Linked DNA regions of Homo sapiens: region 1 is linked to region 2. A link means that fine-mapping ties the variant in region 2 to the expression of a gene that starts in the linked region. Tissue or cell type: whole blood. Region 2 holds a variant in brackets; the other region holds the start of a gene. All regions are shown on one strand. Distances are from middle to middle.

Region 1 (8,106 bases), 340 kb after region 2:
TCTCCCGCCTCAGCCTCCTGAGTAGCTGGGACTACAGGCGTGAGCCACTATGCCCAGCTAATTTTTGTATTTTTAGTAGAGACAGGGTTTCTCCATGTTGGCCAGGCTAGTCTCAAACTCCTGACCTCACGTGATCTGCCCACCTTGGCCTCCCAAAGTGCTGGGATTACAGGCATGAGCCACCGCGCCCGGCCTGTCCTGTTTTAACTTTGGCAATTTCTCCTCTTCTTGACACATACATGTGCAAGTTACTTAGCCTTTGCCTAGTTCTCTTTTCTTCTCTTTCTCTATCCTATTTCTAGGTAAGTTCATCTGCTCCAAGGGCTTCAAATATAATATCATTATGCCAGTGACTCTCAGTGTCTCTCTTCTGAGTGCCAGTCCGAGTGGCCTGCTGGATGCCTCTCTGCCACCTGAAATTTAACATACACCCCAAATGAAAACGATCCTCATTCTTTAGCCCCCAAGCTTTCCCCTCCCCATGTTTCCTGGAACGGATGCCACCATTCGCCCAGCGAAGCACTTCAGCAATGTGCAGGTCACGCTGACACCTCACTCCCTCATCCTCACCCAACGATTCCTTCAGCTCATTCGCCCTCCTGATTTTTTTCTAGAACATCTACTTCTCTCCCTCACCCCTGGCGCCACCATCCTTCAACGCACCCTGTTTTCTTTTCTGGACTAGTCTCCTCATATCTACCCTTGCTGACCTCCAATCCAGACTCATCTTTTTAAAGTGAAAATGTTATCTTGTCTAAAACCATCTAATGGCCTCCCATTGGCTGGTTCCAGATCCTCCCATTTTTTAGGATAAATTTCTGAATCCTTAATAAGAGTCTACAGAACCCTGGATGATGTCATCTGGCGCTATCTCTCCAGACATTTCTTGTGCCACTGTCTTCACCATCATCTCTTAATAGACTCCTAAAAAATTCAATAATGAAGAATAACTCAGGAGGACCTTCACATAGGAATATTGTGAAAAGCCTCAAAAACAAACACACAAAAAATCCTTACAGATGTTCTAAATCAAATGACTTGTTTCCAATTTAAAGCTGCTTCTCATTATTCATATTTATTGAAAGTACTTTTGAAATATCTTTTGTTACCATGAGGCTATAGTTTATCATATAATGACTCCAGTTGAAAAACTGCTTATTCTTCTCAGAGAATGAAGTCACTAAACTTCTGTAAGGTTCTAAAGGTCCTTCAGTGCATGGATCCCAGGATTTTCCAGGCCAGTAAAAAAAAATTAATGAGGCCTTGGCACAGGAGGGTCCAAATTTTTATTCTGCCAAATGGAGATGTTAAAACAAAACAAATTCCATGCACATAACATCTACCTCTGCCGTTATTTTTAAGAACACGTTTGCAACAATGAAAACTTGAAGTCCATACAATCAGAGTAAAGATTAACATTCTAAATTAATAATTTTAGTTTTGCATTCTTATTTTTCCAGTTTCATTGAAAACCTGTGAAAACAGCTTCCCAAAGTGACACCAGTGGCCAGACTAGACTTTGATAATCGCTGTTCTAGATAAGAACTATTATATCCATTGAGAGGTTGTTAATTCTTCTTCTGAAAATAGCTATCAAAATACTTTTGCTAGAATAAATAAAGCTATTGAGAAAGAAGAAAAAACAGCCTCCAACACCTGAAACTGCTCTGAGTCCCACAGCTATCTCTCAATATTATTACAAGCCGATCTGACACTCACAGCCAGGTAAGCTCTGTTTTCCTCCTGGACATCAACAATCCCACAGATACCTACGTCGGATAAGATTATTCTGAGACATGACACACCAAGACAAAGCAATGCCACTTGAAGATTTTCTCTAAGAACAGACAAAAACAAGGGCACCTGCAACGCACAAAACACCAAACATCCCCTTCTCGTGCTAAACAGAATGGCTGTTCCTTCTTTACTCAGTCAGAATTGCCCCACCTTCTAACAGCATTCTATCTACAGCAAAGCCCGGTTCCTCAGTCTTACCCCAAATCATGCAACCGAAGTTCAAATTCTGTAATGGGTTTTTTTCTATAACCTACCGTCCGTCGCTCATGGTGTGTGGTCTCCTTTGCCTCAAAGAACACTAAACCCAATTTGTTCAGCTTATGGTGTGTTCCTGGTGGTCTTTCAATGAAGGGCCCTGACAGTATCAAAGTATCAAAGTCTCTCCCAATTCCCATAAAACCAACTACCGTCAAGCAAATTAATTCCCTACCCACAATGGAGCAATTTTATTTTAAGGCCTTTAATCGTGTCCACATACATGTTCTGTGTATTTTCCTATTACAGGAAAAACTGTATATACTATTCTGGATTCTACTTTTATCTGCTGAACATTATATCAATTTTAATGGCTAAATCATATCCCACCATGATTTTAAAGAATTTCTCCTTACAGGTATAAAAGAAGACAATGCACATCTTGCTTCCACTTTCAATAACCTACCTAAACTATTCAAGACCATCACCATCTAGCCTCAGGCCAGATGCGCCAGGTTCCTACTTATCCGATTCTGTTGGCAAAGACAAACGCAGTCTGATTGCTTTATAAAGAAATGAATTATGAAAGAGTACTGGGCGTCAAGAGGCTCGGACGTTACGCATGTTCAGTAAACAACAGTGTAACCTCTGGCTAAATATTTTCTCACTCTAGGTCTACTTCCTCTTCTGTAAAATGAAAGAGTCACGCTCGTCCCTCACTGTCTCTTGCAGTTAGGAAGTCCGTAGCCCTGTGACTTGCTCGTGGGAAAGAGCCACGGGACAGGCGATCCCATGACTTGGGTGCAAAAGGCCACAGGGGGCCCTTTGGGGCCTGCTCTGGGCTGCTCGCACCGCCCAAGCTTGGGACCACTCAGCGTTTCCCACGGCCCTGCAGTATCCTGGGCTGAACTCCTGAACTTCTTCGGGAGAAAGCACCTGACCATCAGGCAGTCTGTCCTTGATTGAGTAATGCACACAGGTCCACCGGAACATTTTATTTAAACACTTCAAAATGCAAGGGCCTGGAACTGGTTATTCAAGTACACTCACTCAAATCTAAGAATGTGCGAATCACACCCAGGTATCCTGCAGAGACTAGGATTTCCTTTAAAGGAGTTCTAGTTGCAGGTAGCACCGAATCTACCGAGGACGGGGTTCGCCAGCCCGCTCTGCACCCACACCCCTGTGCACGAAACCACAGACCCCCGTAAAGAAGCTGCCCAGCACGAGGTGTTCCTTGTACCCGCTCGCGCCGCCACACCTGCGCCTCCATCCGCGCCCGCACCTGCACGCCCCTCTCTGCGCCTCGGCTCAAGCTCACTCACCGGCGGCGCGTGCTGCGCGACGGCACAGCTGACGGCGGCAGCCAGGAGGACTAAGGCGACGCAACTCCGGCCCGGCATCGCTCTAGCAGCCAACGCCACTCCCCGGACTCCAGCAGAGGCAAAGAAGAGCCGGCTGGGCCGGGGGCAGGCCACGCCCCCTCCGCCGCGTGACCCGCGACCTGGGACCGCACCATTCCAGGCAGTAGGGGGAACGCTCGGAGGAGGCGGGACTGGGAGGAGAGGACGGGGCTTTTCAGTGCCACGAAAAGGGTGGCGTAGAGAAAGAGAGAGAGCCTTCCAGGCTACCTGCAGAAGGAGAGTCGCGATCGCCTTTGGCGCGTGGCGTGATCCATCCCCCTCCCCCACCGCGGGCAATAGTCGGACCGAGCCGGAGCCCCGCCCCGTAGGTGGGGCCGGGAGCTTCACCCGTGGCGCCTCGATGGGGCGCCTCTAGCAGGCGGGTGCAGCCTGTCCCGCGTACCCAGGCGTCCTCGGTACCCACGAAACGGATCCAAAGAGTCTCAACACTAATGTAACATCCCACCCTGACCCATCTTTGCCCTCTGAGAAAAGCGGCCCGAAATGAGTTGAGTTATTCATCCCCACCGCGGAGTCAGGGACAAGGAGCAGTTGAGTGGCCGAGGAGTGAGAGAGAATCGAATCCACTCGGGTCCTCCAAGCTGTTGGTTACCCACTTGGGCTTTCACAGCAAAGCTGCCAAATCCCAGAATTGAGGCCTCGGTGAAAAGCGCGCTGAGACTTGGGTAGGAGGCCCGGTGGGACCCGCGAGCTTTCTCTCCCAGCCCGATGCAGCAGTTCATTAAGCGGCTGTGTTTCCTCCTAACTGGCGAAGGACTCAGGTGGGCGGAGCAGAGCTCAGCTTGGGAGGAGGCGGACGCGAGTAGCTCGGCAGGGGGACTCGCTTGGCTTTCGTGCCATCCGTGGACACAGTCGCGCGGGTAGGTGACCGGGTTGGATTTCAAAGTCCAGCAGGAAATCCTGCCCTCTGGGTTGCACTTCCTGGATGAGCCTCTGACGTCTCAAGCAGCATTGTTTTAATGCTTTGATGAAGCTCAGCACGCTGCCGAAATCTCGGCAGTATTTTTTCTTTTCTTTTTGCATGTGAGAGAAAGGACAACAAATTGCAGTTTTATCCATTTGTATTATTTCTTTAGAAAACTCAACACTCTTTTTGTTGGAGGTGGGGAAATGAGAAGGTGATGTTTTGTTTTGCTTTTTTTCCTATTTTTTTTTTTTAAAGGAGGAGAAGATGACAGTGTTCTCCCTAAGGATGAAGTTTGACTTTTGAAACATATCACATGCTTAAAGCACATTTGAGCTCCTGCATGAACAGTAAGCTAGCAGATGGTAGAAATATTCTTTATTAATTCAAAAAATATTTACTGCGGACCTACAATGTGCCAAGCATGTCTCCTGACACTGGGGATAAGCAGTGAACAACAACAAAAAGACAAACTTCTTCCACCCTGAGGCGTATGTTCTCGGTGAGAAATGGGCAATAAACATAATACCTAAGAAAATTATACGGGATGTTAGTGACAAATGCAGTGGAGGAAAAGGGAGGCCAGGGGCATCAAGTGTGGAGATCAGAAGTGGTAGAGTTACAATTTTAAATAAGAGGGACAGATAGACATGATTAAGGAGGTGAAGTTTGAGCAGACAGTTGAGGGAGACCAGGAAGCTAGTTTTGTGTGTGCCCAAGTAAGAGTATTCTAGGCAGAGACAGCAGCTGTTAAAAGGCTTTAAATGGAGAATGTGCCTGGCATGTTCAATTACAGCAGACGTGTGTGGGTCTGGCACAGAAAGAACAAGGGGAAAAGAAGAAAGAAGTATTAATAGACAAAGTATTTAGTTAAGGAGAGCAGGGCAAATTCTGTAAGGCATTCAGAGCCATTTCACTCCGGAAAAAAAATGTGTAATATTGAATATACGTGTTAAATGTTGAATCTATGGAATTACCTTGGAGCTTAAAATGAGTGTGCGAAGAAGAGGATTCCCATCTTTTAGTTGTTATTACTAAATCAAATAGCTACTTGATTGGAAGATCATTCATCTTCAGTACTCTTGAGAGCGATTTAAACATGTCACCAAGCATATTTTTTTCCCTACTGGAGGATGTTAATTGGTGATTAGGTAGTCTAGCAAAATCAGATTCTTTATGGAAAAAATTTGTCAATTGACATACTATTCTTAGGCACCACTTTCGCAGAACTATGCGTCTAACTTTCAAAGGTCTATTATATATTATTAATACTCTTTTCAGATAAAATATAAATCTAGTTCCCTAAAATTAAACCATTTCATGCATGTCTTTTTTTTCTTACACATATATCTTTATTTTGCCTACACCATTCTTTAATACTAGAAATGTACAGAAAGTCAAGGCAAGGTGTGTGTAGGAGACTTTGCAGTGGTTTTTGGCATACTGATCTGTTCATAGAAAATGGTATTTAAATGTGCAAATGCATGATTATGTCCACGGAAAGGGTGGTTCATACTGCACAAAAGCATCAAGTTTAAGACTTGGATAACCTGTTTCGTGTGCAAGAGTCGGGATATGTAATCAGATTGTTTATGGAATAGCTGAAGTTCTTGGCAAGCTGTGGACTTCCTCATCTCCTACCTAACATTCCTAGGTTCCTGAGGTGGAGCCTTGATTTAAAAGGGTTGCAACTTAGCCACCCCACCCTAAATGAAACCTATCATGTATAACATCACATTACCTGGAACAGGTTTGACTTGATTTAGTAAAACCGAATATACAAAAACGTGTACTAAAAGGTCAAGAGATAGAGAAATAATGTTTCAGTTTGAGAAATAAACATTTTTTTAACTTTAAATATTGACTTTTTTATGAATAAGGAAGCTTTTTATTTTACAGGTCTTTGTGGGAAGAAACAAATCACAAAAGCAATTAAGAGAGCTCAAACAATGGGTAAGAAAGAGCACCTCAACAACTGTATTGAGCTAGCTGAAATTTTGCTCATTATGCTTTGTCAAGAACTTTAATTATCTCTTTACAGGGTTTATGCCAGTTACATACAAGGATCCTGCATATTTCAGGGACCCTAAAGTTTATAACATCAGATATCCGGAATAAATTCCATCACATTACCACCAGTAAACTTATTTTATAGTAAGTGGTTGTATGACGCCAATACTGACTCAAACCAACCTTTGGATAGAAAAGTGTTTCAGGAGTGAGGTAAAGAATGACACTTCCCCTTCATACCAATCAGTGTTCATTAAGCAGATCGCTTATTTAAAATGTTAACACTCATCACATTTTACATATGTTGAATGAAAGTGGTTCTGGGTGATAGTCATTTATATCTGGTCCACAAATAGCTCATACAATGTAGTACACCATTCAACTGAATGGAGTTAAAACTGCTCAGAATGGTTTTCTAACTAGCAAATGTAAGTATGCCTGGTTAAGAGATCTTCCCTTTGTAGGAATGTTACACTGGGATGCATAGTGATGCTGTCACAGCAGGACAAAACATTCCTAGACAACTCTATCCTCAAACCAGTAGTGTCTTTTACATAAAAAGATGATTTACACCTAATAGACAGTGAATGTGATAGACATGTATGTATATATGTATCAGTTCTGAGTTCCACCAGCCTATCCCAAACACACTGGATTACCAGGCTTGTACTGTACTCAAAATTAAGGATTTGCTAAATTTCGTGCAAAGGACTCTAAACTAGGGGAGAGATTATTGTTTGTGTTGCGTTATAGTTGTGTAATAATTAAGGCTGCCAGATTTAGCAAGTACAAATGTAGGACAAATTTAAATTTTAGATCATGTTTTGCAAAGGTACTGCGTGAGATCCAGCATTTTATCTGGCAACACTAGCTGTAATGTACTTCTAAAAAATTATCACCTAAGGATAATTTTAATGACTCAGATAAATTTCATATAAATTTCTTTCCACATTGTGAAAATAAGGCTATTCTAGCTTTTCTAATACTTTTTTTTTTTTTTTAATAGAGATGGGTCTCACTGTGTTGCCCAGGCTGGTCTCTAACTCCTGGCCTCAATCATTCCTGCCTTGTCTTCCCTAAGTGCTGGGATTACAGCTGTGAGCCACTGTGCCTGGCCTCACTTTTCCAATTCTAAAGAATGTGTGTAAGCCTTTCCCTCAACAACTTATTGAAAGGCGAAAAAAGGTTTGGAAATAAAAGGATCTGATGTTTGAAAAAGTACTTTGTAAAATAAATGCACTAAGACTTATCTGTGGATTACTGCAAAGAGGTGAATATAGTAAAAACAAATGAACTTACCTGTATTACTGCAAGTAGCTCAACCTAGTAAAAACAATGGAAATGTTTGACTTTACCCATCAGCCAAATTAAAAAAATCTCCTTTTAAGGTTAAAAGGATCAAAATGTAGGTGACCGTGAATATTCACCAAAACCTTCATCTTTTCAATCTCTTCATCTGTTTCTGGGCTGCTCATTTTGGATGCTTTTTTATTGGTTACTACTATCAGTATCTGTTTTAGATGGTTTGTCTTGTGTGTCTAACAGCCGTGAACACTCTTTTTTTTTTTTTTTTTTCTCCTGAGTCGAAGTATTCCTCTGTAGCCCAGGCTGGAGTGCAGTGGCAGGATCTCAGCTCACTGCAAGCTCCGCCTTCTGGGTTCACACCATTCTCCTGCCTCAGCCTCCCAAGCAGCTGGGACTACAGGCACCTGCCACCACGCCGGGCTAATTTTTTGTATTTTAATAGAGACAGGGTTTCACCATGTTAGCCAGGAT
Region 2 (8,106 bases):
AGTTAAATTCAAGCTAGTTTTCAATCCTTCCCCTGGGGGCTCTCTCTACACATCGAACGTTAATAACTCCATTCTCTGGTTTCCTGACAAAGCTCTTTCCTGGTTTTCCTTCTACCTGTCCGGTTATTCCTTTTCTGGGTCCTATTCTTCTGTACCTTTGGAAGCTAGTGATATAATTTGGATCTGTGTCCCCACCCAAATCTCACATCGAATTGTAATCCCCAGTGCTGGAGGAGGGACCTGGTGGGAGGTAACTGGATCATAGAAGCAGACTTCCCCCTTGCTGTTCTTATGACAGTGAGTTCTTACAAGATCTGGTTGTTTAAAAGGGTGTGTCACCTGCCCCCTCACTCTCTTCCTCCTCCTCCAGTCATACAAGACATTGCAGCCTTGCTTCCTGTACAGCCTGTGGAACTGTGAGTCAATTAAACCTCTTTTCTTTATAAATTACCCAGTCTCAGGTAGTTCTTTATATAGCAATGTGAGAACAGACTGATACAGCTAGTCTTCATGAAGACCTAGCCTTGGCCCTGTTCTCTTTCCTCACCATGTACTCTTCCTACATGATCTTGGCTGCTGTTTCAATTGCCACGTGTACACTGGTACATCCAAATCCACATGTTCAACCAGTACTCTCTCCTGAGTTTCCCATATACCTAACTTCTTTCTATACATCCCAACTCAGCATCCTTCAAGCACCTCTACGTATTAGTCCATTTTCACAACGCTGATAAAGTCACACCTGAGACTGGGTAATTTATAAAGAAAAAGCAGTTTAATGGGCTCAGAGTTCCACGTGGCTAGGGAGGCTTCACAATCATGGCAGAAGGTGAAAGGTTCATCTTACAAGGCAGCAGACAAGAGAGAATAAAAGCCAAGGGAAAGCAGTTTCCCCTTATAAAACCATCAGATCTCATGAGACTTACTCACTACCACAAGAACAGTATGGGGGAAACCACCCCCATGATGCAATTATCTCCCACCAGGTCCCTCCCACAATATGTGGGAATTACAGGAGCTACAATTCAAGATGAGATTTGGGTGGGGACACAGCCAAACCATATGACTCTACTTAACTTACTAACATATAGCCCGTATAGAATACTATTCTAAATTCTAAGTATATGTATCAATTCACTTAACCCTCATAATAATCCTGTGAAGTTGGTAGGTTTATTGTACCCCATTTTAAAGAACAAGAACATGAAGCATTTTCTAAAATTAATCTTACTTTCCTATCTATCTCAAAACTTATCTCTTCCTGTATTCACCACAACATACCCAGGCACCCAACTTCAACAATGAAAGCTGTTTCTCTTTTCCATCTGCTGTCATTTCTCAGCAAGATTACTGAAACGATGTCCACAGGATCTTTCTGGTCTCTCCAGCTTTCAATTCATCTTTTATCTGCCTGCTAGGGCAATCTCTCTCAAACTCGAATAGGGTTAGACACCTTCTGTCTGTCTTCCAGATAACATCTTCTTCACAAGGCCCAGCAATCCTTTTGCATATGGAAGCCCCTGCCATCCTCTTCACCTTATTCCCTACTGCTCAGGGTTCCATTCTCCCAGCTCCCACCACACCTACCTAGAGTCCCCTAAATTAGAAAATCTTCTCATATTTCTTCAGCTTTGTACTCTACCCAGAATACCTGCCCTTCAAATTCCAGCTAGTGACAACATGTGATGTCCCCTATAAGCCTTCCTTGACAACTCTGCCCACCACCACATCTTGTTCCCCCTCCTGCAGCACAGCAGTCTACTCACACTCCCAACTTAGCAATCAACATACCCTTGCCTGTTTACTGTATTGATAGAGGCAGGAGGCAGAGAAATTCTAGGCAGACGGGGGCAGGTCCCCAGCAAAACCCCACCTTCAAGGCAAAAACCCTGAAACCCACAGCCTAAAGTGAGAACTTCTAAACCTGTTTGCCCACTCTCTCCTAATTAGTTCTTTCTGAATAATGTCTTTTTACCAATTGAAAGTTGCCTTTTCCAAAACTACCTATGGCCTGCCTTGCCCCCCACATCCCATTCATGTAAAGACCCCAGACTCACTTGGTAGGGGAGACAAGCGGCTTGACTGATGTATTAGTCCATTTTTACGCTGCTTATAAAGACGTACATGAGACTGGGCAACTTACAAAAGAAAGAGGTTTAATTGGACTTAAGAGTTCCACGTGGCTGGGGAAGCCTCACAATCATGGCAGAGGGCAAGGAGGAGCAAGACATGTCTTACATGGATGGCAGCAGGCAAAGAGAGCTCATGCAAGAAAACTCTCCCTTATAATAACCATCAGATCTTGTGAGACTTAATCACTATTATGAGAACAGCATGGCAAAGACCTGCCCCCCCATTATTCAATTCCCTCCCACTGGGTCCTTCCCACAACATGTGGGAACTCAATACAAGATTTGGGTGGGGACACAGCCAAATCATATCAACTGGAGACTTCAGAGGACAGCTGAGTCTACTGTCATATCACCCTGAACACACCCAATCTCGCCTGATCTTTGAAGCTAAGCAGGGTCAGGCCTGGTTAGTACTTGGATGGCAGACAGACAGCTGGACTTTGGAGGAGAGATGGCTTAGCTTTGGAGAAGAGCCAAGTGTAGATGGCCAGACTTTAGGGAAGATTATCTGCCCGTCCTGTCCCGTCTTCAGCTACCCTCTCTGCTGAGAGCCACTTTCATTGCTAAATAAAATTATCTGCCTCCACCATCCTTCAGGTGTCCATGTGACCCAATTCTTCTTGGACAGTGGACAAGAGCTTGGGACCCACCAACTTTGGGTACCCAAAAAAGGTTATCACACTGACCCTTTGCCCTCGCTACTGGAGGGCAGCTGCCCCACACAGTGAGGCAAAGGGCCCACTGAGCTGATGACACACCGGTGTCCATGGATGGTGGAGCCAAGAGAGCACTGTAGCATGCCCTCTGGGGCTTTAGGGTCACAGACACCACCACCTGGGCACCACTGTGGGGCCTGCACACAGCATGCTCCTGCCGGTGCTCAAAGTGGCTGGCTGGATCCTGTACTCACTTGCCCACACACTCCTGCCCGCAAGAGGTTGAGCATGGCGGGCTGAATGGGGCACCCCCATCGCAAGTTTTACAAATGGGTTGAGAAAAACTCCTGCAACAGTATTACCCACTGCACTAGGCACTCAGACAGGGTCTCTTTTTTCCCTACATCCTAACAATCATCACCATATGTATAATACATAGTATGCACCCAATAAATGTTTCTATTCTACATAGAGGAAATGGGAGTCTGAGCCTTACTCACAGTGTGAATTCCAACACCAAACTACAATTTGCAATTCTCCCTTTACATTAATGTAAAGCAAAAATAAAATTCTAAGCCCCCCAACCATCTGAAGGGACCACTTCTCTCGGCCAAGGGCATTCCAAGGTTAACCTGAAAAACTAGTTCAGGATATGAAAGGAAGGGGGAGTCAGACATAATTATACTCTCCGAAGGGTTGGAATTCAGGCACAGCTGACCAGCATTAACATCAACAAAGACCTTAAGACTGATAGAACAGACTCTTTTAAGTCTGATAAGCAACATTTACAATCAACTCCCCCTGAAGCCGGCTACCTGAAGGTTTCATCTGTATGATAAAACCTTGGTTTCCACAGCTCCTTATCTTA[A/T]CCCAGACATTCCTTTTTGTTGATTCCAGGTCTTTAACTCTTTGAACCAACTGCCAATTAGAAAATCTTTAGGCTGGGGGTGGTGGCTCAAACCTGTAATCCCAGCACTTTGAGAAGCCGAGGTGGGCAGATCACATGAGGCCAGGAGTTCGAGACCGGCCTGGCCAACATGAGGAAAGCCAGTCTCTACTAAAAATACAAAAAAATTAGCTGGGTGTGGTGGTCCTCACCTGTAATCCCAGCTACTCAAAAGGCTGAGGCAAGAGAATCACTTGAACCCGGGAGGCAGAGGCTGCAGTGAGCCGAGAGATCACACCACTGCACCCCCAGCCTGGGCAACAGAGAATCTGTCTCAAAAAAAAAAAAAAAAAAAGAAAGAAAAAGAAAGAAAATCTTTAAATCTGCCTGTGACCTGGAAGCTGCCTCCACTTCCAGTTGTCTCTCCTTTCTAGACAGAACCACTGTATACCTTACATGTACTGATTGACGTCTTATGTCTCCCTAAAATGTGTAAAAGCAAGCTGTACCTCGATCACCTTAGGCCCATCTTCTCAGGATCTCCTAAGGGCTGTGTCATGGGCCACTGGTCACTCATGTTTGGCTCAGAATAAATCTCTTCAAATATATTACAGAGTTTGACCCTTTTTTTGACACAAAGAACAACTGAGCTCAATAGAGACTTAGTAACCTGCCAGAGGTCACTTTGCCCAGTAAATGGTGGAGCTACAATTTGAAACTACTCTAAAATCCGTGCTTGTAAAGCAGCATGTTCCCTGTCATCACTCTTCTTTCTTTAATAAATCTCAAGTGTTAATTTCCGATAGATACACATAAAGCCCAATGCCGATGGCAGTCGAATTCATACATTAGGTGAATTCAACAATAACTTAGCAGGCCAATCACCCATGAGAACAGCTGGAGGTCATGTTTTGGCACTGGAGAACAATACAGAATTGGCCAAGAAAAGCAAGTGACTGTACACAAACTAACAAAGATCTTCTGTCTCTGGCTAGGTTAAATTAAAGCTGGCTAAATTCATCTCCCAGAGAAAAATCTTCTTTTAAAAAGCAACCCAAAAGTTAACCTCCCAGAGAAAACCTTCTTTTAAAAAGTAAGGCAAACTGCTCATCAATTTACAAAAGTGAATCTTCAGCAAATCACTTGTTTTGCCTTTCAGAGCCAACATTCCAAAAATTTTGAAACCGTATGGTGTATGGAGCAGAAAAGGCCAGGATTCAAGTGAGGGCTCTGAGTGTGAATCCCAATTTTACTATTTACCAGCTGTGTGAGTTTTAAGTGACCTCGCTGAAGTATTAAAATGTCGACAACAATTGCCCTGTTGTTATTGGGAAGAGTAAATAACAATGTATGGAAAGCACCTGAGCGTTACAGGGCCCATTAAATGGCATAATATAACTAAGGCACCTGAGCAAAGTGCCTGACCCAGAGCAAGCACTGAATAAATATCAATTCCTTTCCTTTTAGGTTAAGTCTCCACTCCCTTTATCTCACACACTATCATGAACACATAACCTCTGTTGTGAGGAGCTACATCTAGCCCCGTTTCAAATAAAAATCAAGTTCCTTCTTCCAAATAAGAACTTTTCTAAAGATTCAGATACACCCTGACCACCAATGAGCTGTGAGGTTGCAGGCAGTCTAGGGATTCAGTAAACTCAAGGCCTAAGGCAGGCCAAGGCCAACAAAGCAACAGTAAAAATTAACATCCGACCGGGCGCGATGGCTCACGCCTGTAATCCCAGCACTTTGGGAGGCCAATGTGGGCGGATCACTTGAGGTCAGGAGTTCGAGACCAGCCTGGCCAACGTGGTGAAACCCCATCTCTAATAAAAATACAAAAAATTAGCCAGGCATGTGCACCTGTAGTCCCAGCTACTTGGGAGAAATGCGTGAACCTGGGAGGCAGAGGTTGCAGTGAGCCGAGATCGCGCCACTGCACTCCATCCTGGGTGAGAGAGGAGACTCCATCTCAAAGAAAAAGAAAATTAACATCCCTCCAGCATGGTCTCTTCGTCAATCCAGGGCAGTAAGAGCCTTTGAGTGCTGCTGAAGTGACCAACCGACATTCATGTTTCAGGAAAACACGCAGCAAATTCATTCAGCTCTCTACAGTAAGTGCAAAGCCAGTGGCCTATGAGGGTCTGCCCAGACACTTTCCAGTCCTCCTTCCCAGAGACATGGAAATGTGCAAGAGGTAAACTAGCAAAATTAGAGAGCACTGTGCTTCAGACATGATCGTGAAAAAAGAGTAGGCCGGGGGCAGTGGCTCACGCCTGTATTCCCAGCACTTTGGGAGGCCGAGGCAGGTGGATCATGAGGTCAAGAGATCAAGACCATCCTGGACAATATGGTGAAACCTCGTCTCTACTAAAAATACAAAAATTAGCTGGATGTGGTGGTGCACGCCTGTAGTCCCAGCTACCTGGGAGGCTGAGGCAGGAGAATTGCTTGAACCTGGGAGGCGGAGGTTGCAGTGAGCCGAGATCTTGCCACTGCACTCCAGCCTGGCGAAAGAGCAAGAACAAGACTCTGCCTTAAAAAAAAAAAAAAAAAAAAAAAAGAAAGCAAAAAAGAAAAAAGAGTCCCTTATGCCAGTTGATAAGCATATGCGAATATGGGACAATCTTTCAAGACTTACAAAGTATTTCATATCTAATTATGAATCCTAACAGCCAGATTCCTGAGGCGAAAAGTGCTGTTTCTCCAAGACATACTAGGATCCATTTCAACCTGATGATTCTATCCTTACCTCAGTACCACATCGGGAGCCTGAAAAACAGGTTTTCAAGCTGCACAGGGGCAACATAACCCTAAGACTCAATGCACAAATCAGGAAAACTTTTAGTTTCAAAATTACACAACCAATTTAAATTCAAGACAAATGTCATTAAAGAAAAAGAAACTTTATGATAGAGTTTTTGGTAGCTGGGGACTGACACACCAAAAAAAGTCTCCCATAAATCAAGAGAATAAACATCGTGTTTCTATGTATATCTGTAAATGCCAAACTAAGAATGTTGATTAGAATTAAGAGTATGTTGTAATTTAATTTTGCAAAAAAATTAAAATTATAAATGATATCGGTTTTCTAAGTTTGACTTCAAGATAACTTAAAAACTAAATCTGAGTTTTGAAACAACGGATGAACTCATTAGTTTAGAAATCACTGTGGTGTACCCTTCTTCCAAATAGAGAAGACTGGTTGTTAAAGCCCAAACATGTCTAAACTGATGTTTTAGAGAATCTAGAATATCTTCGGTCTTTCCTAACCTTGTCTTCTAAACGGACCTGACAATTCCCTCCCTTGTGGTCCCCATGCACCCTGAAGACACACCTAAGTCAGCCCTTCTGCACTTGCTATTCTATGTGCTTCATTCCTCTTGCCACGAGCCCTCCAAGGGACAGGCTGTCTGTGTCACACCTGCCTTTCTCCGCTGGCACTTAGCTCCCTTCCTGGCCCAGAGGACAGGCACCCAAGGACAGCCTGTCTGGGGCTGAAAATACACCTAAGTCCCCACTGCCAAAAATAGGGCTGAGGACACATGCCCAACGACCAACAGTGGCCTGTCAAATGTTTTTAAAACCCAGAAAACCAATTTCTACACACTATTCTCAAAAACACATGCATGTTTAAAGGAAAATCACCTTTACACTGCATGTGAATTCTTTATTCTTTAAACAGCACTCTCTAGGTCCCCCCCAAATATTTTAGACAGGCGCTATGGAAAACATACTGGTTTTTCACTATACATAAGTAAAAGATTTTATTTTATATACCAGGAATTAATATATTAAGGCTGCAAGAGGCTTCACACATCCACTAGGTCCAATCCTTTCATCTTTGGGTCTCGAAAAATTACTTGCCAAAAATCATTATTGGCCGGTCAGAGGAAAAATCAAGAACACTCTTGCTCATACAAGAGGGCTCTACTTCCCAGAGCTGCCTCCTCCGCAAGAGTCCAGGAGTTATTTTTATGTTGACATGTTTACCAGCACTCCCAAGCCCTTTCTTAAATGCTGTCCAATACATTTTAAAGTTGACAACCCAACTTTTTCAGAAAAATAAAATATAACCTGATTGTATCAGGCACTTAAACTACTAATTATACTAAAATATTAAAGTAACTTCATTTTTCAGCACACTATTAAAAGGAACGGTGATACTTGATACAAAATACTGAAATTGAGGATTTTTTTTTCCATATGCAGTTTTGTTGTATTGAAACCTATTAACACCCCAGTACTGACAAGACAATGAATTAACAACTAAATGTAAATCTGCCCACCTGGTTCTGCAATATTATTGACTAATAGATAACTAAATGCTAACACATCTCAGTTTTCTCCACAGTTCTCTGAAGCATGCAAAAAATATATATATATTACTTACCAAAAACAGAGAACCATATTCAAAAGTCTCATTCATAAT

What was found. PIP is the estimated chance that this variant, and not a neighbour inherited with it, causes the effect.
Region 1: ASAH1 starts here. The variant in region 2 is fine-mapped to the expression of ASAH1 in whole blood (TOPMed, PIP above 0.99).

Annotation. Positions count from the first base shown.
Region 1 is chr8:18,080,664-18,088,769 of GRCh38, forward strand. ASAH1 (N-acylsphingosine amidohydrolase 1) reads right to left here and starts at 3,444. Exons shown (of 14, transcript NM_177924.5): 1 at 3,318-3,444. The coding sequence starts at 3,395. It overlaps ASAH1-AS1 (ASAH1 antisense RNA 1), which reads left to right and starts at 4,205. Exons shown (of 5, transcript NR_125429.1): 1 at 4,205-4,276; 2 at 4,579-4,822; 3 at 6,220-6,273; 4 at 6,362-6,474. It also overlaps the pseudogene MRPS18CP3. RefSeq lists enhancers at 2,901-3,010, 3,811-4,090, 3,891-4,426 and a silencer at 3,361-3,560.
Region 2 is chr8:17,745,650-17,753,755 of GRCh38, forward strand. It overlaps MTUS1 (microtubule associated scaffold protein 1), which reads right to left. Exons shown (of 15, transcript NM_001363059.2): 2 at 8,068-8,106. It also overlaps the pseudogene RNA5SP256. Among named protein-coding and RNA genes, the nearest start is that of MTUS1, 51 kb to the right of the region's middle. The variant A/T (reference allele first, on the strand shown) is at 3,657.